Homo sapiens: one gene and its partners. The protein of the gene in region 1 purifies or fractionates together with the protein of each later gene. This does not show direct contact. Each region holds a gene or a part of one and is shown in the gene's direction. Other genes may lie near its edges. The genes, in order: AOC3, ARL6IP6, MANEA and SLC9A1.

Evidence for each region.
Region 2: the proteins of AOC3 (region 1) and ARL6IP6 purify together in Homo sapiens (affinity purification with mass spectrometry; 2 studies listed by BioGRID and IntAct, with this or other methods). This does not show direct contact.
Region 3: the proteins of AOC3 (region 1) and MANEA purify together in Homo sapiens (affinity purification with mass spectrometry; 2 studies listed by BioGRID and IntAct, with this or other methods). This does not show direct contact.
Region 4: the proteins of AOC3 (region 1) and SLC9A1 purify together in Homo sapiens (affinity purification with mass spectrometry; 2 studies listed by BioGRID and IntAct, with this or other methods). This does not show direct contact.

What each region holds. Positions count from the first base shown.
Region 1 is NC_000017.11:42,845,960-42,854,409, forward strand, and holds the start of AOC3 (amine oxidase [copper-containing] 3), read left to right. Parts: upstream 1-5,239; 5' UTR 5,240-5,384; coding exon 5,385-6,984; intron 6,985-7,312; coding exon of another isoform or gene 7,313-7,405; intron 7,406-8,056; coding exon of another isoform or gene 8,057-8,133; exon of another isoform or gene 8,134-8,450. Other genes in the region: AOC2 (amine oxidase [copper-containing] 2), read left to right, coding at 1-255, 3,127-3,412, 3,642-3,771, 4,123-4,389. UniProt on the Homo sapiens protein: Catalyzes the oxidative deamination of primary amines to the corresponding aldehydes with the concomitant production of hydrogen peroxide and ammonia. Has a preference for the primary monoamines methylamine and benzylamine.
Region 2 is NC_000002.12:152,721,580-152,729,072, forward strand, and holds part of ARL6IP6 (ADP-ribosylation factor-like protein 6-interacting protein 6), read left to right. Parts: intron 1-7,493.
Region 3 is NC_000006.12:95,580,451-95,587,943, forward strand, and holds part of MANEA (glycoprotein endo-alpha-1,2-mannosidase), read left to right. Parts: intron 1-5,951; 5' UTR 5,952-5,989; coding exon 5,990-6,533; intron 6,534-7,493.
Region 4 is NC_000001.11:27,109,927-27,117,419, reverse strand, and holds part of SLC9A1 (sodium/hydrogen exchanger 1), read left to right. Parts: intron 1-3,133; coding exon 3,134-3,594; intron 3,595-7,493. UniProt on the Homo sapiens protein: Electroneutral Na(+) /H(+) antiporter that extrudes Na(+) in exchange for external protons driven by the inward sodium ion chemical gradient, protecting cells from acidification that occurs from metabolism.

The sequences.
Region 1 (8,450 bases):
TCTATGGTGGTTTGGCCAGCTCAGCCCTTGTGGTCAGGTCTGTGTCATCTGTGGGCAACTATGACTACATTTGGGACTTTGTGTTGTACCCAAATGGGGCACTTGAAGGGCGGGTCCATGCCACGGGTTATATCAACACAGCTTTCCTGAAAGGGGGAGAGGAGGGCCTCCTCTTTGGGAACCGTGTGGGGGAAAGAGTGCTGGGAACGGTGCACACACATGCCTTCCACTTCAAGCTGGACCTGGATGTGGCAGGTGAGTGCTGAGGGGATGAGGATGGAGACTTGGGGGCGGGGTCAGGTGGGGTGGAGGGAAGGGAAGGGAATCTCCCAGGTCAAGCTGAAATAACAAGTGGCAAGAGCAGGGTGTTCCAACACCACAGCTCTAGTGGCAACAGGGCAGGGACTGTTTGAGCATATTCAGTGCAGTGAGTCTGGTACTGGGCTACTGGGTATCTGGTAAAAGGTGAAAAGAGTTCCCCCGCCCAGCCCCTCTGACTTGCTATGATTGTGAAACTAGTTTAAATGTAATGGCTGGGCATGATTGCCTTAGCCTCAAGTGACACTGGGTGGGTGAACTGGCCCAATGGGGCTGGAGTTGGAGCACTTTGCTTCTTCCTAATTCTGAGGGTCAGTAGGGGTGGGGAGGGCAGGGTCCTGAGCCGAGGTCGGAAGAAGTCTGTCCAGAGTCTTCAGGGTGGGGGTCGACCTGGGGCTTAGGAAGGAGAGGGTAGCAAAGCTGGGGTTGCTCCCCAGGATAGGGCCACTCCTCATCGGGAGGGCCATCCCATTCCTGTCATCACAGTTGACTCATGGCAGGCACACAGCTTGCTGCAAGTATGGAAAGAGATTTCTCAAGCACAAAGGGCTCAAAGCACACAGAGGACTTGCTGTTCCTGACAGACTTTGTCAAGGACAGAAAGGAACTTACAGACTCACACACTGATCCACAAAGAAAATTAGAAACTCACCAGACCCTCTCCATTTTAAGGGAAACTAAGGAGGGTGGCGGGAGATGGGACAGGAAATGACTGCCCAAGTATAATGCAACATAAACTAGTATTTCTTGTGAAATGTTTTCTTATCCTCAAGTCTAAAGACATGGCACGTGCGTGCCTGCGTGTGTCTCTGTGCATGCACTTGCACTTGTGTTCGCAGTGGTGTGGAGGGTAGGAAGGACTAATAGCATGATTGAAATGATCATATTAACTAGATTACTCTTTGACATACTTGGATTTTGACTTGTCTTCTGATTGGAAGTTTTTCTTCAGCATCTTTGGCATTAAAGAGGCTTGTTTTGGGAAGTAACATTTATTGGACCCCTAGCGTGTGCAGCATGGGCTGCTGCTGTGGGCCAGAGAGGCTGTGTCAGGCACCAGCTCACAGGATGGCTGCAGAGGCACCAGCTTCAGTGCAGTGCCTCCCGTGCCAGGTACCTTCATATAGGTCTCGTTGAACTTACAGTCCAGACCTGCAGAAAGTGTATGACCAAGTGCTGAGTTAGGCAGTGCAGGTTATGGATGCTGTAGAATTCCAAGGAACTCCCAGACAAAGGTATGAATGTGCTTGCTTCTGAAAAACACTGACAGTACTTCCCACCTTGCTGAGATCAAAAGTGAAGTCTCAGAGCTGGGAGGAGTATGCAGGGGACCATGGGAAGGGATTGGGTTTTCTTTTTTTGAGGCAGTGTCTCACTGTCACCCAGGCTGGAGTGCAGCGGTGCAATCACAGGTTACTGCAGCCCTGACCTCCTGGGCTCAAGCAATCCTCCTGCCTCAGCCTCCTTAGTAGCTGGGATGACAGGCATACACTACCACGCCCAGCTTTTTTTTTTTTTTTGAAGACAGAGTCTCACTCTGTTGCCCAGGCTGGAGCACGGTGGTGCAATCTCAGTTCACCGCAACCTCCACCTCCCAGGTTCAAGCGATTCTTGTGTCTCGGCCTCCAGAGTAGCACACCACCACACCTGGCTAATTTTTTTAAATTATTTATTTATTTAAGTAGAGATGGGGTTTCACCATGTTGGCCAGGCTCATCTTGAACTCCCGGTCTCAAGTGATCCACTCGCCTCGGCTTCCCAAAGTGCTGTGAGCTACCATGCCCGGCCTTTTTTTTTTTTTTTTTTTTTTTTTTAAGAGGCAGTGTTTCATTCCGTTACCCCAGCTGGTGTCCAGCACCTGGGTTCAAGGGATCTGCATCACCCTGCCACCAGCCTCCTGAGTTGCAAGCTGCCACACCCGGCTCAGGAGTCAGTTTTTCAGCTAGCTTCTCCAAGACAAATATCATTATCCCTTTCATAGTTAAAAGAATGTCACTAGTCAGCTGCAAGTGCTTTTCTGTTTATTGGGCACAGCCATAGAACAGCTTTAATTATGCCCAGTGTAGGGATTCAGAAAGTGAATCAGAGAAGCAAATTGGTCCAGGGACTGTTTGGTAGTCCAGTGCTAATAGAACTTTCTGTAGTGATAGAAATATTCCGTATTTGAGCTGTGGCTCTAAACAATAGTCACTAGCCATGTGTGGCAACTGGGCACTTCAAGTGTGGCTAGTGTGACAGAGGAACTGAATATATATATATATATATATACATATATATATATATATATATTTTAGACAGAGTCTTGCTCTGTTGCCCAGGCTAGAGTGCAGTGGTGTGACCTCAGCTCATTGCAGCCACAACCTACTGGGCTCAAGCAATCCTCCTACCCCAGCTTCCCAAGTAACTGGGACCACAGGCATGTACCACCATGCCTGGCTGATTTTTTTATTGTTTGTAGAGTCAGGGTTTCACCACGTTGCACAGGCTGGTCTCAAACTCCTGGGCTCACATGATCCACCCGCCTCAGCCTCCCAAAGTGCTGGGATTGCAGGTGTGAGCCACCTCAGCTGGCCCTAAGTTTTAATTTTCATAGCCACGTGTGGCTAGTGGTTACCCTATCGGATAGGGCAAGTTGGAAGAAGATAGGAGCTTGCTCTTGCCCAGACCTCCTGGCTCCCAGCACAGTGTGCTCTGATGCTCTCTCTGCCTTTTGTCACACCAGTGCAGTGGACATCATGGGGAAGACAGGGACCTGGCCCAGAGACCTTACCTGGTGTGGAACTCATCTCCTTTCCCTCCCCCTGGCAGGGCTGAAAAACTGGGTGGTAGCTGAAGACGTGGTGTTTAAACCTGTGGCTGCCCCCTGGAACCCGGAGCACTGGCTACAGCGCCCACAGCTGACTCGGCAGGTCCTGGGAAAGGAGGACCTGACAGCTTTTTCCTTGGGAAGCCCCCTACCCCGCTACCTCTACCTGGCTAGCAACCAGACTAATGCGTGGGGTCACCAGCGCGGGTACCGAATCCAGATCCACAGCCCCCTTGGCATACACATACCCCTGGAGAGTGACATGGAGAGGGCCCTCAGCTGGGGGAGGTGAGGAGGGCCCTGGCCTGGGTGGAAGGAAAGGACAGCCCCTCCCCTGCCCCAGTCCTTGGAGACAAACTCCCTTCCCACGGCTACCATTCATCCCTGTACCTCCCCTCAAACCCAAGTTAGATACACGGTGGGAAATGGTCTCACACAGAATCGGATCTAAGGGACTCCTGGGCCAGTAAAGGCACTTGACATTTCCCAAAACCACCTTCTTATGATTCCTGGCCAGATACCAGCTTGTGGTGACCCAGAGAAAGGAGGAGGAGTCACAGAGCAGTAGCATCTATCACCAGAATGACATCTGGACACCCACAGTTACCTTTGCTGACTTCATCAACAATGAAACCCTCTTAGGAGAGGTTGGTTGCCCTAGGGACATAGGAAAGGGACACCTGTGGGCATGGCATCTTGGCTGCCCAGCCTCTGGCCAAAGGTTAGAGGGAATGGCTGATTTCCAGTTCGCAGATTCAGAGGCCATGGAGTTTTCTGATGACCAACACAGGTCATCCCTCCTGGGGTGAGATTAGCTCTGGGACACTGGCTCCCCCCTCTCCCCGCACAGCTGCTTACATGGATTGCTCCACGTGTTGTATGGGCATGAGGCTGGGGAGAGTGGAAGCCAGGCTGAGACTGGAGGCTGGGATTGTGACTGAAGGGTGGTTCTTTGGGTCACGCTTCCATAGTCCTCCAGCTCCTCCTTCTTCTTGCAGGATCTGGTGGCTTGGGTCACAGCCAGCTTCCTGCACATTCCCCATGCCGAGGACATCCCAAACACAGTGACTCTGGGGAACAGAGTTGGCTTCTTGCTCCGACCCTATAACTTCTTTGATGAGGACCCCTCCATCTTCTCCCCTGGCAGTGTCTACTTTGAGAAGGGCCAGGATGCTGGGCTCTGCAGCATCAATCCTGTGGCCTGCCTCCCCGACCTGGCAGCCTGTGTCCCGGACTTACCCCCTTTCTCTTACCACGGCTTCTAGTCCTGAGGGTGTGGCGGGCGGCGTGGTTAGGCACATGTACTTTTCCCTGTTTCTACTTTCTATTCTCCGTGTTTTTATCACACCTGCTCCCCAGATTCCCACCCCCTCAATGTTCCTCTCACACGAAACCCCCATCAGTCCCTTTGGTTAATTCTTACTTCCTGTTCATCTCTAAAGTGTTAAATTATAAAAATGATTTTTAAATATTCAAAGAAAAATATCACAAATCCTACTACTCAGAAATAGGTGGTCACATTACATCAGACATCTCTTTATGCATGTGCATTCAAAAGGAAGAGTAGATAGAATTTTGTAAAACAGATGTTGTATGTAATTTATAATAAAAAGTATTAGAGGAATTTTACTTGAATTTATTGTTTGACCTGTTAAGTATCTAGAGTCCTCTGGAGAATACTAAGGAGTCTGGCCAGGGAAATTAGCGCTGGGGGCCAGAGGGCAAGGGGGATAGACCTGGCCAAGGAATGTCATTTGGAAAGCTAAAGGGGCAGGGGGTGGGGGTCTTTGGAAGGAAAACGATAGTTTGAAGTTACAGGAAAATATCTGGCCCTGACTAAGTGGGGGACTGGGGAAGAAGCTGGGCTGAGGTCAGGAGAGGCTGCTCTGCACAGATCCTGCTCCTTCCCAGTGCTGCATTATCTTGAAATTTTCCTTCCCCTTCCCCCTAGCCCCAACTCTCCCCAACTCCAACCCTGACCCAGAAAGTAGAGTGATTTGGAGGCTGGAAGACAAAACCATGTAAGGTCTGTGGAAATCACAGCTGTTCAGACCCGCCTCCAACCCCGGCCACCCCGCCCCCTTGCCCTAGCCTTCCTGTGTCCTTCCCACCCTTAGTCCCAGGCATCTGACTACCGGGAACCTCAGCCAGAGTCCGGGAGCCCCCCACCCCGTCCAGGAGCCAACAGAGCCCCCGTCTTGCTGGCGTGAGAATACATTGCTCTCCTTTGGTTGAATCAGCTGTCCCTCTTCGTGGGAAAATGAACCAGAAGACAATCCTCGTGCTCCTCATTCTGGCCGTCATCACCATCTTTGCCTTGGTTTGTGTCCTGCTGGTGGGCAGGGGTGGAGATGGGGGTGAACCCAGCCAGCTTCCCCATTGCCCCTCTGTATCTCCCAGTGCCCAGCCTTGGACACACCCTGGCCAGAGCCAGCTGTTTGCAGACCTGAGCCGAGAGGAGCTGACGGCTGTGATGCGCTTTCTGACCCAGCGGCTGGGGCCAGGGCTGGTGGATGCAGCCCAGGCCCGGCCCTCGGACAACTGTGTCTTCTCAGTGGAGTTGCAGCTGCCTCCCAAGGCTGCAGCCCTGGCTCACTTGGACAGGGGGAGCCCCCCACCTGCCCGGGAGGCACTGGCCATCGTCTTCTTTGGCAGGCAACCCCAGCCCAACGTGAGTGAGCTGGTGGTGGGGCCACTGCCTCACCCCTCCTACATGCGGGACGTGACTGTGGAGCGTCATGGAGGCCCCCTGCCCTATCACCGACGCCCCGTGCTGTTCCAAGAGTACCTGGACATAGACCAGATGATCTTCAACAGAGAGCTGCCCCAGGCTTCTGGGCTTCTCCACCACTGTTGCTTCTACAAGCACCGGGGACGGAACCTGGTGACAATGACCACGGCTCCCCGTGGTCTGCAATCAGGGGACCGGGCCACCTGGTTTGGCCTCTACTACAACATCTCGGGCGCTGGGTTCTTCCTGCACCACGTGGGCTTGGAGCTGCTAGTGAACCACAAGGCCCTTGACCCTGCCCGCTGGACTATCCAGAAGGTGTTCTATCAAGGCCGCTACTACGACAGCCTGGCCCAGCTGGAGGCCCAGTTTGAGGCCGGCCTGGTGAATGTGGTGCTGATCCCAGACAATGGCACAGGTGGGTCCTGGTCCCTGAAGTCCCCTGTGCCCCCGGGTCCAGCTCCCCCTCTACAGTTCTATCCCCAAGGCCCCCGCTTCAGTGTCCAGGGAAGTCGAGTGGCCTCCTCACTGTGGACTTTCTCCTTTGGCCTCGGAGCATTCAGTGGCCCAAGGATCTTTGACGTTCGCTTCCAAGGAGAAAGACTAGTTTATGAGATAAGCCTCCAAGAGGCCTTGGCCATCTATGGTGGAAATTCCCCAGCAGCAATGACGACCCGCTATGTGGATGGAGGCTTTGGCATGGGCAAGTACACCACGCCCCTGACCCGTGGGGTGGACTGCCCCTACTTGGCCACCTACGTGGACTGGCACTTCCTTTTGGAGTCCCAGGCCCCCAAGACAATACGTGATGCCTTTTGTGTGTTTGAACAGAACCAGGGCCTCCCCCTGCGGCGACACCACTCAGATCTCTACTCGCACTACTTTGGGGGTCTTGCGGAAACGGTGCTGGTCGTCAGATCTATGTCCACCTTGCTCAACTATGACTATGTGTGGGATACGGTCTTCCACCCCAGTGGGGCCATAGAAATACGATTCTATGCCACGGGCTACATCAGCTCGGCATTCCTCTTTGGTGCTACTGGGAAGTACGGGAACCAAGTGTCAGAGCACACCCTGGGCACGGTCCACACCCACAGCGCCCACTTCAAGGTGGATCTGGATGTAGCAGGTAAGACATTTTGGTGGGGAGAAGGCTTCTGGAAGAAGGGCTGAAAAGTTGTTTCCATTAGCTTTGGGTTTTATGTAGATTATCCCAGAAAGGAAGACGTGGATTTTTGTACTTCCCCTTTTGCTGGATGGGAGAGAGTTGGCTGCTGAGTTTTATTTGGATCTTAGCTCACTGGCTGGGTGCAAAGCTGCAGCCTTCCTCTACGTGACCTCATCCAAAGATCTTGGGAAATGGCCGAGCTCAGGGAGGAGGCAGGATTTGGGCTAACAGTGTCCCCATTGCCCTCTTCTCTCCCTTGTACTTATATGGGCTCTGCTGCTGGGAGCAGCCTTCTGTTTGTCAGCTCAGTTCTGTGTCTGGCCTGTGGTGGTGGTGTTTTGGAGGATCTCTTTGCATTCTACCACGTCCCTGGCATGTGCAGGTCAGTCATTCCAGGTTGTACATTTCCTTTGGAGATGGACCCTCCTCCCTGATTTTCCTTCTTTCTCTGGGCACAATTCACCTAAGTGTGAGGGGTCACATGGATCCCGTGGAGCATTCTGGATAGATCCTGGAGTCTGGTCACAGAGAGAGCCAAGGCTACATGATGGCTTGGAGTCTTCATCTTTGTCTTTTCACTGTCTTTCCCCACATTGAGTCAGTCACCAGGTGTTTTTTTTTGGTTTTGTTTTATTTTGTTTTGTTTCTGTTTTGCACCTGCAGTATCTCGGCAGGTCAGACTGTCATGCCGTGCAGGTGCCAGCCCTCTCTCTGCTGTTTTTGCTCTTGTTGCTCTCAGAGCCAAGAGCCACTCTGCACCCAGAGGGCCTCCCATCCACACCAGCCTGCCCTTTACTCAGCTCTCACTTTCGTCATCACCTGTGGGATCCTGTCTGCAGAACCCCCTCAAAACTCTTTCCTTCACGGTGCAGCTCCACCCTGCCTTGCTGTGCTCTGCACAGCTACACCCAAATTCTCCATGTCCCTGGACACGCACTTCACATGTTACAGTCAGGCATCCTCCTGTTTGCTTATGCTTTGTCTCTGCTTAGAATGTCCTTCCATATCATCTTTTCTGGTAATGTCCTTTAAGGCCAGGCTGAAAAGTTGCCCGGAAGGGCCCCCTTTTCCTGCCTGCAACTGTATTCCTGTGATCCGGAAGTTGCCTAGGCCATGCTCCTCTCACAGGACAGGCCAGTCAGTGGTTTGTCTGTCTGCGTGGAAAGCAAGAGGGTAAGGATGATCATTCATCTCTATCCCCAGGGACGAGTACAGTCCTCTCTGCTAATGAATGTTGAAAGAATGAATGAGTGAAATGGAATGAACTCCCTGATGAAGTATTTTAATTTACAGGTCAACAGCTTTGGCTAAAGGATTGGAGGTATCCTGGGGAGAGGGAAGAGAAGGAGGGGCACACTCAGTTCTGGGCTGCTCTTTGGCCCCCACTCTGAAGCCAGATGGGGGCAGAGTCCAGAGGGGCCAGGGCA
Region 2 (7,493 bases), on another chromosome or scaffold:
AACTTAATCACTCTACATTCGATCACATGAATCAAGTCATTTGATGTGATCACTTTAAATTAAATCATTTGATTTGATCACTGTAGATAGGTGGTTGAGACACTATGACACATGTCCTCCCCTCTCCCATTCTTTCCTAAACTCTCTAATCTACCACTTTATGGCTAATCACCCTTATGGTGACACTAAGTATAGTGTACCTTATTTCAGCAGAAGGGGAAACATGAACCCTTTATCTTCAAATTGCAAAGAAGTTGGTTTCTTAGATATTGCATGGAAACTTTTGTCTGTTCTTGTCAACATCTTGCATGAGAAAACATACTTTTTAGTTACTCATTTTATCAGTGTATGTTTTTACATTGTTTTATCTCTAGAAATAAGCCAAGATTATTAGGCTTCTCAGAGCTTTTATTGATCTGTCACCTCTTGATGCAGTGGAAACAGAATCTTATGAATTAGGCATGAATTCTAAACCTTTTGCTGTTTAAAAGTTGTCCTGATTTCTCATTTAGGAGTAGAATGACGGGCAGTTGTTATCTGAAGGAATGGCTTGCTCAATATCAAAAGGAATGTGATAGGTCTTTTGACATGGTCCTGCTTCCTTTTCCACTTAGGGTTAAATAATCCCATGTTGCTTTTAGGTATGCATGATAGATACTTAATATTTTTACAGCAAATAGGAAAATCATTAAGATTTTGCTAATGGCATGAATTTATTGTCAAGAGTCAGGAATGAGCAGAAAGTGTTGTATCTTTATGGTGAAAAAAACCCAACAGCTATGCCAAAACAAAGCTCATTATTTTGAACCAATGGTCAGATGAGCTCCAGTGGTCAGATGGAGAATAAAAATAGTTAATATCATTTAATGGGCTAATTCAATCAGTTTCCTGGGGGTTAATTTTAAAGAATAGTTATAGCAGATGTATGTATTATAACATATGGATAGAGAATAGTTGTCTCTACCAGAAGAGGATTCTTAAAAATCTGTTTCAGTGAAACAGGGCCAAGATGATTAAGCTCTTAATAAGATTGAGGTGATCGGCCACGCGCGGTGGCTCACACGTATAATCCCAACACTTTGGGAGGCCGAGGCGGGTGGATCACTTGAGGTCAGGAGTTCGAGACCAGCCTGAACAACATGGTGAAACCCCGCCTTTACTAAAAATACAAAAACAAAATTAGCTGGGCATGGTGGCACAGGCCTGTAATCCCACCTACTCGGGAGGCTGAGGCAGGAGAATCACTTGAACCGGGGAGGTGGAGGTTGCAGTGAGCCAAGATTGCGCCACTGCATTCCATCCTCAGCAACAGAGCAAGACTCCAACTCAAAACAAAACAAAAGATTGAGGTAATTGTGGCAACACCTGCCTTTTTTTCTAAGCTGCAATTCTCTACTGTTTTCAAGAAAAATACAAGTTAGCCTATTTACAGAATGTTTTGAATTGACTCCTGTCCTCTGGTTAAAACTCCTCTTGAGATAATTGATAGCTGAAAAGGTAGGATGGTTCTCTCAAACTTGACTTCCATCTAAATCAACGCTGAGTTGATTAACTTAGATATCAAGAAAAATTGCCTCATTAGTTTACCCCTGAGGAGATGCCTATGAAGTTACATCCTTTTTACAATTAATAAGACAGTTTTCACATGAAGAAACAATTTGAAATATTTAATAAGAAAATGTGTTGAAGTCATCCATTACGTTTGGGAAAAGTACCATGCAGCCTTTTATCAGATGATAACGATTTTATTATATTTCACTATTTATTTTGCCCTGTTTATTAGGAACCTCGTAGCCAAATGTAATAATGTTTGATTGTTTTGTATATTACTCTTTATTTCTTGGCATACTTATTATTGCCCACACATGCTATTATCTTAATATTTCCGTGACTCATATTTAAAATTTACTGCAAATTTCCTCATTCTTTGTTTGAAAGTAGGTTGGTTTTTAGAAAAAGCAACGTGAGCACAGTAACTGCTCTACCATGAAAGAGTTCTCTTTCTTTTTCTAGACAGACTGACAAAAATTTTGTACACTGCAGAATTTAATTGCAATTTAATCCTAGTCCAAGATTGGCATGGCAGTCAGTAAGAACAGATTATAGCAGCAATTCTCATTTTGGTATGGGTAACAATCACTTGGGGACTTGCTTTTTTAAAAGCACCTGTAGATTTTGTTTTGGCCATCATGATTTCGTGATACAGAACATTAGAAGTGTTAAAAAAAGTCCAAGAGAAAGGATGTGTGGGAGGTGGCCCATTCTCTTAAAAAGACACAAGTTGAGTAAAACTCAGTTTCATCCTTACAATGAAAATTGATTGAAACTCTGAACTTGAACTTTTTAGCCAGTGTGTGGACTTTATAATTTGAACCTATACTCTATTAAGAAAGTGTTACAGTGCTATCTGTGGCTGGGTGGGGTAGCTCTAATATTTCATCTAAAAAGTCACAAATATCCTATTCTATAGCACAATTTTTGTAAAATTGTCTTACCTATTTGTATTATTCAAGAAATGATGACTAAGGCCAAAAAAAAAAAAAAAAAAGAGAGAAAGCCAAAAAGGACTGGAAGGATATAATCAAAATGTTAGTTTATCTGGGTTTCCGAATTGATTGGTTGTATTTATTATTTTTATTTTCTACAATGTATAAGTGTAACTTGCAATAAGAAAAACTTTAAGGGAAAGCACAAATTTAAGTTTAGAGAATAATGTTTCAGTAATTAACAATAACACCATTTATTGCACTTTTACAATATGCCAAAAGCCATTAATTTGTGTGTTATTTCCTCTAGTATTCTCAACTACACTGTATCCATCAATGTTATTTTCTTCTAAACCAAAACTCAAGAAAGTATGTATTATAATTTTTATACCATAGATAGTCTAGGTAGTATAGCAAGGCAGAAAAAGAATGGGTTATCAGCAAGAATTAGCCATGTGCAGCTAAATTATTAGTCATGAAATTATTACAGGACTCTTCTTAACACATAAAAGCAGTAATAAGAACCAGACATTAGGACCCCTAAATCTCAATAAATTGAGTTGACATTGTGTGGTACTCTGTAGTCCAACTTTGGTGGTTGGGAGGGACGTTTCTTAGGCTAATGAAGTCAAAAGTTAGCTGGCATCAGAATCACCTGAAAGATAAATTTTGCTGCTCTTCACATGGTGCAGAATATCTGACTCAGTAGTGTGAGATGGAGCCCAAGAATTTTCATTTTTGACAAGTTTTGAGTTGATGCTCTGCATGCTGCTAGTTAGGGGGCTATATATACTTTGAACACCACTGGCCTAGTAGTTCCCAAACCTGACATAAAAAAAAAAGCAAAAAAACGAAGACCCTGGAGATTTTCTTTTTTTGCTTTTACGGAATCTTAGACCCTATAATTATCTACTGAATCGAAGTAACTTAATTGGCTGTATGTGTCAGTGTACACTGTACAATCAGGGCTCATTGGACCATTTTTCATTTCTGAATTATTTCGAGCAGTTCTGTTTGTAAGGATTGAAATTTCATGACTTATTCTTTCTTAGGGATCTTCAAAAGAATAAAGAAAACTGAGCTATATTTCTCATAAAGTTTATTTGATCTTGAAATTACCACATTGGTCTATTGGACATTTTTTAATTTTGAAATACGTTTTGGGATTTTAGTGGTCACATATTGTTCTTTCTCAAAACATTCTCCTATTTCATTATTTTAGTATTACTCATCAATTCTCAACTATGGTCGAAAGAATAAAATAATTATGATGGAATTAGGATTCCAGTAAGACTTTCCTAAGACTTTAAGTATTTTTTTCATCTTTTATGAGGTCTGCATCCTAATTTATTTGATACTGTTTGTAAGTGGACAGATGCTAAGGGCAGATGTGTATACAAAGGTGATTTGGAAAAAAAAATGCAAAAAAGAATTATTGGGTTGACCATTTGAATTGTTTGTAATCTAAAAATGAAAATATGTTACAAATTATGGAGCAAAGAAGATTGTTGTCCTCTTTTCGTCAAAATAAGCCATGAAAGGCTTAAAAATTCCTTCAAACATTGTGTTTTAATGACGCAAGTGCAAAAAAAAAAAGCAGGAATAATGACAAGCTGTAACCAATTTGAGATGTATCTGAAATCTGGAAGTGGTATTTACAAGATGGATATGTTGTAGATTCATACATGAAGTTAGTAAGCAATTATTTGCACTCAGGTCGTGCCCATTTTTGGTGTACATGACTTTAGGGAAACTGGGAATTGAAATTCGGATTTGCTGTATTTATTTCTTATGAAAATTTTTAACAAAGTTTTTTTCCTGCTGTCTTTTTGCTCTCTAAATTATTCTTCAAGTGTCATGAAAATAAAGGAAATAAAAAAGCCTCTTTGGACTTATATGATAAAAATATTGATGACTGTTTTCCCTGTTATACTGAAGATTACAAGCTTCAGAGGAGAATATAAATTTAACAGGATTGCCCATGAATTAATTGTTTAAAGCTGGATGATGGGTATATGAGTTTTATATACTTCTCTCAACTTTTTCCTGTGTTTGAAATGATCTGTAATAAAAGTGTTGGGTTTTTTTTTTAATTTTCCCATGTGAATCTAATGATTTACCAATGTTGGGAACTACAGGTGTTATTTATTTTTGAAATTTCAGTCACTTAATCTGTCAGAGGATCACCTTCCTCATCTGTTTCAACAGAAAGATGTAGAAATGCTACAGTCTGGGTTGCAGGTGGTCGGGCGATTGGGTGAAGGCCTTAACCAGTGTAACTGCTATAGCTACCATGCACTCTGCACCCACTATGCTCATGTTGCATTGGCAGGAGAGGAGAGAGCACTTTCCTCTGCTCCTGCACTTGGCTTTGACGTGTAAAGAGACACTTTGCTCTAGGGATTTAAAGACTTGAGCTATCTATAGAATGTGATTTAGAGAGGATACCAAATTATTTAAAATAATGGTCATCCTCTCAAGTTAGAAAACTATAGAATCTAATAAAGTTGAGAACATTTGCTTACATAAACATTTAAAAATTGATGGTTAGTTTCATGCATATGATACATCTAAGTTTTATTAGTAGCCAGCTGGTAATAGTTTTTACAACTTTTAAAGTTAGCTAAGTACAGCCATACACCACATACCATTTTGGTCAACAGTGGTCTGCATATATGCCTGTATGATGGTGGTCCCATAAGATTACAGTGGAGCTGAAAAATTCCTATTTAGTGGCATTGCAACTGTCCTAACTTGGTAGTACAATATATTGCTCACATGTTGGTGTTGATGCTGGTATAAACCAACCTATTACCAATCTAGTTTTATATAACCTTCCAGTCATAAAAAAAAATACAGCACAATTACGTGCAGTACATAACATAATTCTTGATAAACAATTATGTTACTGGTTTATGTATTTACTATGCTTCTTATTGTTTTAGATTATATTACTTCTGCTTAAAAAAAGTTGACTGTAAAACAGCCTCAGGCAGGTCCTTCAGGAGGTATCCCAGAAGAAGGCATTGTTGTCATAGGAGATGACAGTTTCATGCATGTTGTTGCCCTTGAAGACCTTTCAGTGGAAAAAGATGTGACAGTGAAAAACAGTGATATTACCTTGACCCTATGTAGGCCTAGGCTAATGTGTGTGTGTCTTAGATTTCAACAAAGAAGTTTAAAAACTAAAAAATTAGAAATAGAAGCTTATAGAGTAATGGTATAAAGAAAAAACATTTTTGCACAGCTGTACAGTGTCCTTTTGTTTTAAACTGTTAGTAGAAAAGGGTAAAGTTAAATTTTAAAATTTATAAAGTAAGAAAGTTACAGTAAGCTAAGGTTAATTTATTAATGAAGAGAAAAATTTTTTAATTTAGCGTAACCTAAGTGTACAGTGTTTATAATAGTCTATTGTAGTGGACAGTAGTGTCCTTGGCCTTCACCTTCACTCATCAGTCACTCGCTCACTGATTGACCCAGAGCAACTCTTTGTCCTGTAAGCTCCATTCATTGTAAGTACCCTATACAGGTGTACCATATTTTATCTTTTACACTGTATTTTTACTGTACCTTTTCTATATTTAAGTATGTTCAGATACACAAGTACTTATTGTTGTATTACAGTCGCGTGCAGTATTTGGTATAGTAACATGCCGCACAGGTCTGTAGCATTGGAATAATAGGATATAACTGTATAGCTCATAGGTGTGTAGTAGGCTATATACCTAGGTTTTTGTAAGTACGCTCTTGTGATGTACAAACAACAACGAAATCACCTAATGATGCATTTCTCAGAACATATCCCTGTCATCAGTGTATGATTGTATTGTATTTTCATTGTTAGTATCATAAAATGCATTAGTTACGTAAGTAATTTAATCTCACCAGGAAAGATTCCAACAATTAAAGCAAAGGCTTTCACCGATCTACCTGTGTGTCTTTTTACATCTTTTTCTCTTTGTTTACATATGTATAGTCATTTAAAATACATGTTTTTTTCACTGTTATAGGAAAAATATAATTGGAATCATGTATATTTTGCAGCCTTGTTAAAGTGCCTTTTGGAGTATATTCTGTATTAGTATACATAGGTCTACCTCATTTTTTCATGACTGCATTGTATTTCATAATATAAGTATACCAGTTTATTTAAACATTTCAAATGTCAGAATCTCTTACCCAGGACTTGGAAATTACTAGTATACAGTCACGTTTAATCCCATTGTTTACTTATGAAGTTTTATGAAGTGTGTGCAATTGATTGCCTAACACTTATTTAATAGGAAACCTTTCCCTAGTATAGGAACCATGAGAGTTTTGTTTTTTTCTGGTGTATTCTGATTATATATAATATGTGTAAATTGGTGCCTCTGTGTCTGACTTCATAAAACTTCTTGAAAGTTGCCTCATCCCCGTAAGCTAAAACTGTTAAACAAAATGAAAATATTTAGAGCATATAACAGCCTCTTTTGCTGGAAGGTTTTATAGAAATAAAGTTGCCAGCATATTTTTAGAAGAGTAACTGCTCCCTGACACCAGAATGGCTTATTTTGAAAAATAAGCCAAAACAAATATACCCTTAGATAGGTGTCTATAATATTCCAGCAAAGGGATTGGGATAGGAAATTCCTACCCATCCCTGTTTTTGCTTTGGATGAAAACAGTCTTAAGAGGTTTCAATTGATGGAAAAGATTAGTATACATCATTTCATTGGCCAGACGTGGTGGCGTCTGACTGAAATCCCAGAACTTTGAGAGCCCCAGGCAGGCGGATCATGAGGTCAAGAGATCAAGACCAGCCTGGCCAACATGGTGAAACCTCGTCTCTACTAAAAGTACAGAAATTAGCTGAATGTGGTGGTGCACACCTGTAGTCCAGCTACTCTGGAGGCTGAGGCAGGAGAACTGCTTGAACCTGGGAGGCGGAGGTTGCAGTGAGCCGAGATTGCGCCACTGCACTCAGCCTGGCAACACAGCAAGATTCCTTCTCAAAAAAAAAAAAAAAAA
Region 3 (7,493 bases), on another chromosome or scaffold:
CACGGTGGCTCACACCTGTAATCCCAGCACTTTGGGAGGCAGAGGCGGGTGGATCACGAGGTCAGGAGATCGAGACCATCCTGGCTAACACGGTGAAACCCCATCTCTACTAAAAATACAAAAAATTAGCCAGGCGTGGTGGCAGGCACCTGTAGTCCCAGCTACTCGGGAGGCTGAAGCAGGAGAATGGCATGAACCCTGGAGGCGGAGCTTGCAGTGAGCGGAGATAGTGCCACTGCACTCCAGCCTGGGCAACAGAGTGAGACGCCGTCTCAAAAAAAAAAAAAAAAAAGAAATGACAATTTAAAAAGTAAATACTGTTAACAATAAAATATATGAGGAATAAGTACTTTTCACTGTGGAATTAGGAGAGGTATCAAGAAGAGGCAGCATTTCAACTTTGACTTGAAGGTGACTGGTATTTCAATAGTTGGTCATATAGAGAATAGGCATTTAGAATAAAATGTGTTATATTTTAATTGCTTGTCGGACACCCATCTTTAATCATCATCATAAACAATTGCTCATTTATTTAGTCTTATACTAAGCCACATGATTTTGAGAGTTTTACAATATTAACTAATTTCATCCTCACAAAAATCCTATGAGTGAAGTAATAACTCATTCTATGGGTGAGGAAAGGAACTCAGAAAGATCAGGTCAGTTTTGTAGGTCAGATAACTAAAAAATGGCACAGCTGGAATTTGAGCTCAAGCATTTGAACTACAGAGCTCATATTTTAAATCTCAATGCCCATCTGTGTTTATTTAGGTTGAGATGACTTAATTGAGACATGGAGGTTGAGCCAGAGCCAGCAGATCATCTCTTAAAATTGAGCTTGTGTGTCATCTATAATGATGTGATAAACACACATTTTAATTGAATGAATGAAGTAATGTAAAATGAGAAGACAGAGGATCAGCTTAAGAAATTACATTCATAGGCAAGAGAGAGAGAAAAAAAAACAGCTTCCATAAATGGACATTTTGTGCTTTGTATTCATGAGTGTATCCAGAAAATGAACCTAAGAAATTTTTTAGAGTTTCCAATATTTCTTCACTTTTCATTTATTTATAAATTCATTAGTATTTACTGTTTGATTAAAACATTACTGTTTCAAATTGTCTTGCATGATTCACAGAATAGTTTTATCAGTAGGCAAAACAGATACCCTCTTTTTTAAGAAAAGGCTAAGTGATTTACCCAGGATCACACAACTAAGTGTGACTGATTTGAATTTACATCTTAAGATTTATTATATATCTTGATCTTTCATGAATCTCGCCATTCAGCTGAAGTCAACGTTTCAAAAATGAATGCCTTACTAATTTATAAATCTGTTAGTTATTTCTCCTTTCTCTGTAACTCTTCCAACATTCATTACCATTGTTTTTTTCCTTATAGAATACCTATCCAAATGTTTTCCTTCTGAAGTATTATGTTCTACTTTTAGAAAACAGAGTAAGAAAATATCACTGTTGTCTCATCCAGACATAACTATTTTACATGTTTAAGTATATTTCCTTCTATGTGTATCTTTAATACAGATATGATATTATATATCATAGTAGTTGATATATTACATCCAAAATATTATTTTTGCTTCATGTCTCATCAAAATTTTCCCTTTCTTCAATCAAAGGGAAATGTTTGTTGTGATGTCAATGATTTGAAAATTTCAGGACAACAAATTACAGTGGCATGCCAAAATGGTTGTATCATCTTTTTTTTTTTTTTTTTTTTTTTTTTTTGAGACGGAGTCTTGCTCTGTCGCCGAGGCTGGAGTGCAGTGGCGCGATCTCTGCTCACTACAAGCTCTGCCTCCCAGGTTCACACCATTCTCCTGCCTCAGCCTCCCGAGTAGCTGGGACTACAGGTGCCCACCACCATGCCTGGCTAATTTTTTGTATTTTTAGTAGAGATGGAGTTTCACCGTGTTAGGCAGGATGGTCTTGATCTCCTGACCTCGTGATCTGCCTGCCTCAGCCTCCCAAAGTGCTGGGATTACAGGCGTGAGCCACCACGCCCAGCCCATCCTTTTATACCTGTTAGTGCAACAGGACTGCCACAGCTCACATGTAGAAATTTCACTTCACAGAGTCATGTAGTGCAGGGTTTGAAAGACTTTGTGACTTAGCCCTTTCCAGAAATAAGCAGGTATGTTAACAGCTCACATTCTTCTATTTACTGCTGGGATAAATAGCACAAACAATTTCTGTTTACTTTTCCTGCATATTCACCATATGGTAATATTTTACCATATTTGCTTACCATTATACACAAACACACATACCCTTACTTATTATACGTTGCATTGTATGTAAGCCATACATTTTATATATAGTGTATGTATGTGGTGTACATATATGTATGAATATGTGTGTATTTATGTATATGTGTGTATCCTCTCTTTAATATATTGTCTCATGGTTCCTCGTGATTAGATCTGGATTAATTTTTAACAAGAGTACCACAGCAGTGATTCTGTGTTTTTCTCAGTACGGGTTCGCTGAAGACTAATGGCCATACTTATTTATCCAAATTAACTGATAAAGTCAATTTTGATCACTAGTTTAAATTGGTGTTTTGGTAGGTTTTCCACTGTTATTATTTCCCCATTTGTAATTAATTAGATATCTTCTGGAGGAACATTTTGTCAGTATGTATATAGTTATTAAAACAAAATCTCCAGACCTGTCTACCTATTCCTTTACTAAAAGTTCATTTACATAGCTTTTTATTAGAGAGGGAGGGAACTGATGTGATGGAATGCAGGGATGGGTAAGAGTTAGGATACCAGGTAAAGTGTCAGAAAAGATTTAGTAATTAATATTGTTTCCCAAGAGTTTTATAAATTTAAATACATTTAATTATGTATATATAATCATACATATTTATATCTAAATATATATGACATGTATCCATATATAACATAAGATGCACAATATGTAAATACACATATATGTGCATGTATGTGTACATATGCACATACACACGTTTATGTATGTACCTGCATGCCTTGATATATTTACAGTATGCATATCGTATATACAGTATACATATATACATATATGACGTATATATGTACACACACCATATTTACTTAAAGTTTGAAACAGACAAAATACAGTTAACTTTAGTTAGATATGCTTGTGTGCGGTGGGAAAACTATAAAGAAAGAAGAGGTGAAATGGTAAACACAAAATTCAAGCAGTTGCCCTTAGGCAGGGAGAAGGGCAGGACTGGTGATTCAGAGGGAGCACGAGAAGTGGAAAGGAGCTTTTAAGCTGGCAGATTTCTTTTTGAATGTTTACTTTATATGTTTTAAACTAGACATGTCTTTTATACTATTCTTTTATGTTATTCTTTATATTATTCACTATTCACAATTAAACAAGATTAACCTTAAAAATAATTCTTATGATTTTAGCTGTTAAAGAAATATACTTGGTTAGTTTAGTGTTTCTTAAATACATGTAGAATAGTGTTGTGGGAAGTCAGGGACCCCGAACGGAGGGACTGACTGGAGCTGCAGCAGAGGAACATAAATTGTGAAGATTTCATGGACATTTATCACTTCCCTAAGAATACTCTTATAATTTCTTATGCCTGTCTTACTTTAATCTCTTAATCCTCTTATCTTCGTAAACTGAGGATGTACGTCACCTCAGGACCACTATAATTGTGTTAACTGTACAAATTGATTGTAAAACGTGTGTTTGAACAATATGAAATCAGTGCACCTTGAAAAAGAACAGAGTAACAGCGATTTTTAAGACAGCGATAAAGTCTGACTGCCTGTGGGGTCGGGCAAAAAGAGCCATATTTTTCTTCTTGCAGAGAGCCTATAAATGGACGTGCAAGTAGGAGAGGTATCACTAAATTCTTTTCCTAGCAAGGAACATTAATATTAAGACCCTAGGAAAAGAATTGCATTCCTCGGGGGAGGTCTATAAGCGGCCGCTCTGGGAGTGTCTGTCCTATGCGGTTGAGATAAGGACTGAGATACGCCCTGGTCTCCTCCAGTACCCCACCCTGGTGAATTTGAGGTCAGACTGGTTCTCTGCTCTCGAACCCTGTTTTCTGTTGTTTAAGATGTTTATCAAGACAGTAGGTGCACAGCTGAACATAGACCCTTACCAGTAGTTCTGTTTTGCCTTTTCTCCTGTTTCCCCAGAAGCATGTGATCTTTGTTCTCCTTTTTGCCCTTTGAAGTATGTGATCTTGTGAGTTACTCCCTGTTCTTGGACCCCCTCCCCTTTTGAAATTCTTAATAAAATTTGCTGGTTTTGTGGCTCAGGTGGGCATCATGGTCCTACCGATATGTGATGTCACCCCCGGTGGCCCAACTGTAAAATTCCTCTCTTTGTACTCTCTCTCTTATTTCTCAGACTGGTTGACATTTATGGAAAATAGAAAGAACCTACGTTGAAATATTGGGGATGGGTTCCCCCGATAGAATAGAAGCAGCAGTTTGTAGGAAGTTTCACTTGTCTTTCTTTTCTATTGGAGTTAAGTCTTTTTTAACTTAATTCTCTATAATAACAGCACCGTATCATAGAACTCATTTTATAAAGCAGTCAATGTCAGCATTGTGCCAAATACCTTTCTAATAAGAAATCTGTATATAAAAAGACTTGAATATTTCATTCATATGGTGTATATGTACCTATATACTTATACTCATATATATATATATATACACACACAACAATAATGTCTTTTCTTAATCAGCCAAGAAGCACTGCATTAATATATGTCCATAAACATACTTACTAAAACAAAAACACATATAATACCCTTTCAGAAGTTATAAATTACTGTTTATAACCTCTGTTCAGTAAGATTTTCAGAGTCGTAAGTTAATTTTATTTTTGGAGACGTTTTCTTGCACTGTCACCCAGGCTGGAGTGCAGTGGCACAATCATGGCTCACTGCAGCCTTGACCTTCTGGGCTCAAGCAATCCACCTGCCTCAGCCTCATGAGTAGCTGGGGAACTACAGGCACACACCACCATGCCTAGCCAATTTTTTAAAAGTTTGTGTAGGGATGGGGTCTCCCCGTGGTTGTCCAGGCTGGTCTCAAACTGCTGAACTCAAGTGATCTTCCTGCCTCAGCCTTCCAAAGTGCTGGGATTACAGGCATGAGCCATCATGCCCAGCCTAATGAATTTTTTGAAAAAATTGGGAATATCTTACTTGTGATTATTCTTTTTTTCTCTACTGTCATTTAAAAAATTTTGTCTGATTCTATTTCACTTCAAAATGTTATTTAAAATTTGTAATTTTTCCCTTTTATGAAATTGTTAGTTAAAAATTTTTTAGAAAATCTGTTTAATGACTGGGTTTTTCATACACTAGTAAGTATTTCCTTTTTATTAACTGTGATTTGTAAATTTTACACTTAGATTTAGAAAATTTTAGTTCAGGCCAGGTGTGTGGTGACTCATACCTGTAATCCTAGCAATGTGGGAGGCTGAGACAGGAGGATCGCTTGAGCCCAAGAGTTCAAGACCAGCCTGGTCAACATAGTGAGACCTTGTCTCTACAATAAATAAATAAATGATTTTTAAACAGAATTTTAGTTCACATACATAGAATGTTCCCTTCCTACATTCAGCATACATGTAATCTGTTCAAGTAATGAAAAACATATTTTAATTTCTTAAATAAAATTTCCTAAAGGTTCGTCTGACTAAACGTAATTGGCATGTACATGGTGATATATCCAAATGAATATTGCCGTTTATTCTAGCCATAGACCCTTATTGTACACATTTATATATGATGATATAATTAATGTCTTCACTTTCTTAATTTCACCAATATGTGATGAAATCAGTATTAATTATTCAATGTAATGAAATTTATGGATTTTAGTTTTCGTGTTGAATATATTGGAAAATACTGTTGATAACACTTACTAATTATCTTTTTTCAATAAATTGCAGCAAAACACTTACTATTTTGGAGTTTAAAGTATGTCATCATGGCAAAGTTTCGGAGAAGGACTTGCATCATTTTGGCACTTTTTATTCTATTTATTTTCTCTCTGATGATGGGTTTAAAAATGCTGAGACCAAATACAGCTACTTTTGGAGCTCCTTTTGGACTTGACCTTCTTCCAGAACTTCATCAACGAACTATTCATTTGGGGAAAAATTTTGATTTCCAAAAGAGTGACAGAATCAACAGTGAAACAAATACCAAGAATTTAAAAAGTGTTGAAATCACTATGAAACCTTCCAAAGCCTCTGAACTTAACTTGGATGAACTACCACCTCTGAACAATTATCTACATGTATTTTATTACAGTTGGTATGGAAATCCACAATTTGATGGTAAATATATACATTGGAATCATCCAGTGTTAGAGCATTGGGACCCTAGAATAGCCAAGAATTATCCACAAGGGAGACACAACCCTCCAGATGACATTGGCTCCAGCTTTTATCCTGAATTGGGAAGTTACAGTTCTCGGGATCCTTCTGTCATAGAAACTCACATGAGACAAATGCGCTCAGCTTCAATTGGTAATTATTGTATATATATATATGTGTGTTTGTGTCTGTATATATGCATATAAATGATTTTTTGTGTAACTTTACTAGTTAATTTTCTCATTATTATTAATTATATTGTTAAGCTCATACCTCCAAATTAAACTGTATGTATGATCTTAAACATCCAGGCAACCACATTTTAACACTGCCCTTAGTGTATATTGTTTAATTTTTACATTTTGGAGCATTTCTGGATATATTGTTGATTTCTAATTTAATTCACTTTCTCAATTTTATTAAATTATGATTTACATAAAATACAATGAATTTCCCACTTTAAGTTTATAGCTCATTGATGTTACTCAAAAGTATATACCTGTTTGAATACCACCCCAATCAAGAAGTAAAATATTTCTATAGCCCAAAAAGTCTCATCATAATTCCTTTATTCAGGCCTACCTTCTCCCCTACCGCTGAAAACTGTATACATATCAGCTGGATCTGATTTCTATCAGATCTGATTTCTATCACTGGAGAATAGTTGTGAGTGTTCTATTACTTTATGAAAATAGAGTCATTCAGCATTTGTATGTGTGTATGTCTTTTGCTCAGCACAATATTTTGAACTGCACTTAACTATATCAATAGCTTAGTCATTTTTATTGATGAGAAGTCTCCTATTGTTTGATTTTGGCAAATTTGCTTTTATATTCACCTGTTGATAGGTGTTTGGGCTTTTTCAAATTTTAGGCATGTAGCATGTAATTTAGTCCTGCTTTTCTGTTTCTTAAAGTTATTCTGTCAGTCTTAATGTCTGTTTATTTCATTTATGTTTAATGTAATAATGATATGATTTTAAATCTGCCATTTTTCTGTTTATTTTCCATTTGTCCCACACGTCTGTTTCTTTTTTTCCTTCTTTTTCTTCCTTCTCTTACATTACATATGCGTATTATTCTGTTTTATATTTTCTTCTGGCTTATGTTATTC
Region 4 (7,493 bases), on another chromosome or scaffold:
AAGCCATCATCTGCCTACCCTGGACTATCTCTTTAGACTCTGCCTTCTCTTAAGGCAGCTCTTGGTGCTAACGCCAGGACAGGGGCAGGGAGGCTGTGGAGGGGGGTCAGCATGCAGCTGGCTGGAGCTGGACTTCCGGCCTTGGGAAGGTGCTTTCTGGCCCCTGCCTGTAGGAGCTCTGCTCCCCTAAATCTTCATCCTGCTTATCTCCGCTGCGCTGTGCCTGTCTCCCCTCCAGCACACTGCAGGTCTTTGGGGTCTGATGCCATTGTCTTGTCTCAGCTGCTTCTGCCTGGGTTGTCTGACTGATCTCGGTGGGTGCCAGGAAGAGAGAGAGGAACCTGGGAGATGACTGTGGATTGAAGGTTATGAGAGAGGGAAGCACCAGAAGATTCCTGCCCTAACCTGAGCAGACAGGTGGTGGTCAGGGAATGCTTCCTGAAGGAGGAGGCAGGCAGAGGATATGGTGTCAGCCACATATGGTGGGGGTAGAGGTAGAGGAATGATTTCTAGAGAGAGGAACTAGACTAGGTGAAGATTGGCAGGCAAAAGAGGATGTGGCTCATATGGGGCAATTGCAAGGAATTTGGCAAGGCTGAAACCTAAGAGTTGACAGTGGGGAGAATGGGACATGAGGCAAGAGCAGATGACAGAGGCAGTGCTGAAAATGTGGGCTTTATCCTCTACAGCAAGAGAGACTTGGGTCCAACATGACTAGCCCTTCCCAGTGGACCAGCCAGCTACACACTGGATGTTGACTGGTGGACAGTACAAAGACTGGGGGACTTTTCAGCAAAAGGGGTGATTTTGGAATTATTTTCCCTTTTATTGATGTGGGAAGTAGATGAACAAAAAGTGACTTTTGGTCATGTCTATTTTGAAATCAGGAGAATGCACATGGTGCCTTCGAGGTCCTCTTGGCCTAGGATGGAGACATCTTTTTTTCCCAATGTGTTTTGAGTGTCTTCAGGGTGCTTGGCACTGTGCCAGGATTCTGGGCCTGGATAGTGTTCAGTGTGTGAACTTTTTTTTTTCAAGATGGAGTCTTGCTCTGTTGCCCAGGCTGGAGTGCAGTGGAGTGATCTTGGCTGGAGCTCAGTGGCGTGATCTCGGCTCACTGCAACTTCTACCTCCTGTGTTCAAGCAATTCTCCTGTCTCAGCCTCCCAAGTAGCTGGGAATACAAGCACCCACCACCACGCCTGGCCAATTTTTATATTTTTAGTAGAGACAGGGTTTCACCATATTGGTCAGGCTGGTCTTGAATTCCTGACCTCAGGTGATCCACCCACCTCGGCCTCCCAAAGTGCTGGGATTACAGGCGTGAGCTACCGTGCCCAGCCAGCAGTGTGAACTTTGACTTGTCACCGTACTAGCACTGCCCAGATTCCTACCTGAGAGTAGGAAGGGCTTTGGGCATGGAGAGGGAAGTTCCTCCTCTGTCCCAAGGATCTCAAGAGTAAGTAATGAGAGCAGAGGCCTGGCCAGGCATGCAGGTTATCGGAAATCTTGGGTGATGTCCCAGCCCTGTGTATTTTCAAGTCAGCTGATATTTGTTGAGCACTTCTTGTGTCCTAGCCCTGGGTGTATAATGATAAGCAGTTATGGGATCTGCCTGCACAGAGCTTGCAAGATAGGGAAGGGGAGGAGAGAGAGCTTTGCTTTCTTCTTTCTTTTTTTTTTTTGAGGCTGGGCTCAAGTGATCTTCCTGCCTCGGCCCTCCTAACTAGCTGAGACTACAGGTGCATACCATGCCCAGCTATTTTTTTTAAGTGGAGATGAGGTCTCCTATGTTGTACAAGCTGGTGTCAAATTATTGGCCTCAAGTGTTCCTCCCACCTCAGCCTCCTAAAATGCTGGGATACAGGCATGAGCCACCATGCCAGGCCAGAGAGAGCTTTCCTCTTGAGCAAAGGGACAAACCCTCTTGGCTATGCCAACCCTGGGAGCATAGTACCCAACATACAACTAGATGCTCAGATTTTTTTCCACCTACTTTCCCACCCCAAAACAAAACAAACAAGTAAACCACTCACAGGAGCTCAGGGTTCTCTGGCCATACCTGATATTGAGAGAGGCCCTCTCAACGGGGATTTTTGCTACTCCTCAGCTCTGGGTTTGAAGCCTTAAGGTGGACTACAGCAGAGCGGCCTGTTGCTGGCCAGGACACGGCCTGGGGAGATGGCTGGTGGGTCCCAGGCAGAGGGGTGTGTGAGGAGGCCTTGATGGGAGGGAAGGATAGGAGAGCTTGAATTACAGAACTGTGCAGTTTGATGGGAACTGGGGCATCAGACCTGTGTTCTATTCTAGTTCTGCTCCCCACTTGCTGTGTGACTTTGGGCAAGTCCCTTCCCTTTTCTGAGCCTTAGTTGCCCCATCTTTAAAGTGGGTGGCATTGAGCTAGAAGCGGGATAGCAAATAGATTTTATCTCACCTGCCAAAGCTGGTTGCCACTGACATCCTTGAGCCGTGTCTTGAGCAGCTGCCTGGACTCAGTAGGAAAGCCTACTGTTTTGCAGGTTTGCAGACCCCAGGCCTTATTATCCCCAAGTTCCTTCCCACGCTGGTATTCTTAGATTCTTCTGTGCTTTCTTCTGTCTCCTATGCCACTCCCCACCAGCTGGTTGTCTGCCTTCTGCTTAAACAGCTCCGTGATAGGGAACTACCATCTTCCCTCAGACAGAATTGTTAGATTGTTATTCCTCAGGTTGAGCTCAGATCTGCCTCCCTGAACTTGTGCCTGGAATAATGCCTTGGGTTCAGGCGTAGGTGATGCCCGTAGGTACTTGGCACGTCAGTAATCAATTTATAATTTCTGCCTTCTGGAAGCATATAGAACTGCTGCTTTCTAACATTTTATGACAGTGACAGAGATAGCATGTATATATCCTTTGAAAAAAGTGCTTTAAAAACACTGTCACTTGGTTTATGATGGCAAACCTGTGAAGCTAGCATTGTCCCTTCCATTTTACAGGCGAGGAAGCGGAGGCTCAGAGAGTTAACAGAGCAGCCCTCTGAGACCCAGCCTGTGCACCTCTCACCAACTGCGCTCCTCATCCCCGGCCCATCCCCAACCTTCTATTCTCCTGGCTCCTCCGAAAGCCCATGGCCTCCCGTTCTCTCGCCCTCCGCAGGTTTCCATGTGATCCCCACTATCTCAAGCATCGTCCCGGAGAGCTGCCTGCTGATCGTGGTGGGGCTGCTGGTGGGGGGCCTGATCAAGGGTGTAGGCGAGACACCCCCCTTCCTGCAGTCCGACGTCTTCTTCCTCTTCCTGCTGCCGCCCATCATCCTGGATGCGGGCTACTTCCTGCCACTGCGGCAGTTCACAGAAAACCTGGGCACCATCCTGATCTTTGCCGTGGTGGGCACGCTGTGGAACGCCTTCTTCCTGGGCGGCCTCATGTACGCCGTGTGCCTGGTGGGCGGTGAGCAGATCAACAACATCGGCCTCCTGGACAACCTGCTCTTCGGCAGCATCATCTCGGCCGTGGACCCCGTGGCGGTTCTGGCTGTCTTTGAGGAAATTCACATCAATGAGCTGCTGCACATCCTTGTTTTTGGGGAGTCCTTGCTCAATGACGCCGTCACTGTGGTGAGGAGGCCAGGGGCCATGCCCATGTCCAAACGGTACAAACCCAAATCCAGGCCCACCAGTGAATCCCTCATCCACCCGCTAATAACAGTAATAAAAACAGCTGAGGCACATTCCCGCTTCCCGTATGCCAGGCACCATGCTGAGCCCTTCGGCATGGATTATCTCATTTAAGTCCTCATGGCTGCCTTAAGAGGTGCTTATTATTCTCATTTTCCAGGGGAGACACAGGCCCAAAGAAGTTAAATAACCTGTTGGAGTATGAACCAGTTTGTGATTGAACCAGGTCTGACTGACTCCAGGGCCTAAGCTCTTGGTTTTGCTAGGTTATATGCTCCCTCCTTGACTTGACTTGCTTTTTGTTTTTTAAGAGACAGGGTCTTGCCCTGTCTTCTAGGCTGGTGAACTGGTACGGTCATAACTCACTGCAGCCTCAAATACCTGGGCCTGAGATCCTCCTGCCTCAGCCTTCCGAGTGGCTAGGACTACAGGCATGCACCACCACACCCGGCTAATTTTTTAAATTTTTTGTGGAGATGGGGTTTGACCATGTTGCCCAGGCTGGTCTTGAACTCTTGGCCTCAAACCATCCTCCTGCCTCGGCCTCCCAAAGTGCTGAGATTACAGACCTAAGCCAACAAGCCTGGCCCTTCTCTTGCATTTTGATGTGAGCTTGGGCAAATTACTTACACTCTCTGTGCCTCAGTTCCCTCTTCACAGACCATATCATCTGTGAGGGGCCTTTCAGCTCTCATGTTGGCTATATCTTAAGTTAGAATTCGGTTTGTGCACAGTTTTTGGGCGGAGATTATGGAAAGGGGCCTTGTCTCCAAAACATCTAGAAGGTGATAAGTAAAAGAAGTTGGCCACTTGCTTGCTGTGTGACCTTAAGCAAATGCTATACCTCTGTGGCCCTCACCTTTTTTTTTTTTTTTTTTTTTTGAGATGGAGTCTTGCTCTGTCTCCCAGACAGGAGTGCAGTGACGCAAGCTCAGCTCACTGCAACCTCCGCCTCCCAGGTTCAAGCAATTCTCCTGCCTCAGCCTCCCAAGTAGCTGGGATTACAGGCGTGTGTCACCATGCCCAGCTAATTTTTGTGTTTTTAGTAGAGACTGGGTTTCGCCATGTTGGCCAGGCTAATCTCGAACTCCTGACCTCAGGTGATCCGCCCACCTCAGCCTCCCAAAGTGCTGGGATTACAGGCATGAGCCACTGCGCCCAGCCAGCCTCACCTTTGATAGCTGCAAAGTGGCAGAGGATTAGTGCTTTCCTCCAGGGTCTGCACGTGGTAGCACCATATACACCTGCACATGCCCTTCCTCCCAGCTGGTTTCCTTGGGAAACAGATGTGTGCATGTGCATGCTCACGTTGTGTTGTGAGAACACTCCCACCCCCTCCTGAGCTGTCCCGCTCAGAGCAGCTGCACACACAGGAAAGCTCAAGGGCACATGTGCATTCCCAGGCCATGACTCCCTCCTCTGCAGCCCCAGCCTTCAGGAAGCAGCACCTCAGAGTAGAGACAGACTGTGGTGTTCAGCTGCTGGCAGCCTCAGCTTCCTGTTCCTCCCACGCCTCCTCATGGGGCTGGGTAGAATAGCCTGACCTGAGCAGGCAGGCCTCCATCCTGGCTTCCTCTAGCACTAGCTCTTGCCCAGGGTTACCACATGAGCCTGAGTTTCCCCATCTGTGACACAGGGATTGCAGTACTCAGCCTGTCATCCTCCCAGGCTTCTTACAGGATTACTTACATTAGTGAGTCATACTCACTAATGTCTGTGAAGCCAGTGAGTGCCAAAGATAAAGCCCTCTCCAGTGGGATCTGGGTGTTGGGGTTCAGGTGAGCACTGCTGTGGAGCTTGGGGCATGGTTGCATCAAGCAGGTAACAGACCCAGCCATTTGTGGACCCATGGTCATGTCTCCCAAAGGCAGTGGCAGCGGTGGTAGTGATTGCTGGTGTTCATTGGGTGCTTCCTGTCTGAATGTGTATTGCCTCATTTTTATTTATTTATTTAGAGACAGAGTCTCCTGTCACACAGACAGTGTCACTCAGGAGTGCAGTAGCACAATCATAGCTCACTGCACCCTCAAACTCCTCAAATGATCATCCCCTCTTAGCCTCCCAAGTAGCTGGGACTGCAGGTGCTGGCCATCACACCCAGCTAATTTATTTATTTATTTATTTATTTATTTTGTAGATATGGGGTCTCATTATGTTGCCTGGGCTGGTCTCAAGCTCCCGGGCACAAGCGATGCTCCCTCTTTGGCCTCCCAAAGTGCTGAGATTACAGGCGTGAGCCACTGTGTCTGGCCTATGTTGCCTCATTTAATCTATACAGTAACTCCATGAGGTTGACACAGTTATATTCCAGTTTTTTTGCGATGAGGAAACTGAGGAACGGAGAGGTTACATAAGCCTGATATATGATATAGCTGAGGTTCAAATCCGTAGTCTGAGTCCAAAGCCCAAGTGCTTACCACTGTGTTACTCTGTTTCTCTATAGTTCCAGGGGTAATAGCACCAGGCCAGAAAGGAGGACTTTCCCCTCTGTGCCGACTCCATGGGCCCATGTGGTAGACCATGAGGACCCATGAATCCCCTCAGGCCAGGAATGAGTTTAGCCCACGGCTGAGTACGCACCTGCTAAGAGGCTGTCTGCCGCTGGAGCCCTGTCCTATCCCCCAGACAGCTGGGGCCAGGCCGCACCAGGCCTGGCCAGTGCTCTGCATCTCCCCTTGCTGCCTGGCCCAAGTCAGGTCTTTCTGGAGCTCTTGGCATAGGTGTGAGTGCCCCATTTCCCAGAGAGTAAAGCCAGAGGCTGACCCTGAGCTGCCTGGTCTCAGGTCTGTGCCCTAGACAGGTCACTCCTCACGGTCCATTCCTCCTGCTCCAGGTCCTGGGGGCTTTGGAGGGTTCCCTGTCATGGATCCTCACGTCCTTCCCTCCCTTCCCCCAGGCCTGGAAACTCCCTGCTCCTTCCTGGCAGAGCTGTCTAGGACAGACTTGAGTAGGCCAGGCAGCTCAGGGACCTAGCAATAGGAGGGGCAGATCCTCAAAGCTGAGCCTGCTGGGGAGGCCTCAGCCATGGCTGTCAGGGAATAAGTTCTGGGCCCAGTTCTTCTGCTCCTGGGCTGGGGGCCCCCTGGCGTGTTGTTTTACCACTGTGAGCCTCGGTTTAGCAAAGGAGCATCCTTGACCCACCTGCCTCGCATGGTTGTTGAGTGTCGACTCAGATAAAGACTATCAAAGGGCTTTACAGTGTATGAAGTGCCACTTAAACATCTGATGGTAGTGTTGCAATGACCATCTATTTCCCAGTCCAGGAGACAGGGATGCCTTAGCCTCTAATTCCATAGCATCTGAACTTGGCTGTTCATTGCAACCCCTGGGGTGCTTGTTACATAGAGATTTCTTGGCCCTATCCCAGAGAGTCCAAGTCCAGTATGGCCTGAACATGTGTATTTTCAGAAAGCTCCAGAGGTTAAGAAATGACATTCTAGTTCATTGTGTGAACGTCCCTTTTTTGTGCTGAAGGAGGGACTGAAACCCAGTGATGGGCATGACGTGCCCAAGGTCAGGCAGTGAGAGGCAGACTTGATAGCACCAGATGTGGCTAACACTGCATCAGGTAAGGCTCCGAGCACTTGATTCGCTGATTTAGTCCTCACAGCAGTCCTAAGATTTGGTATTATTATCCTCATTTTATAGACAGGAAAACTGAAACACAGGGAGATGAATTTGCTTCCTGTACACAACTCAGGAGTGGCAGAGCCAGGATTCCAGTCCAGGCAGTTTGGCTTCAGGGTCTTCACAGAGCTTCCCAGGGCCCACCCTTCACCAGTGGGGCACGTGGCTGGCCCAGAGCAAGCCCCTCAGCCCCAGGCTGAGGTTTTGAGCAC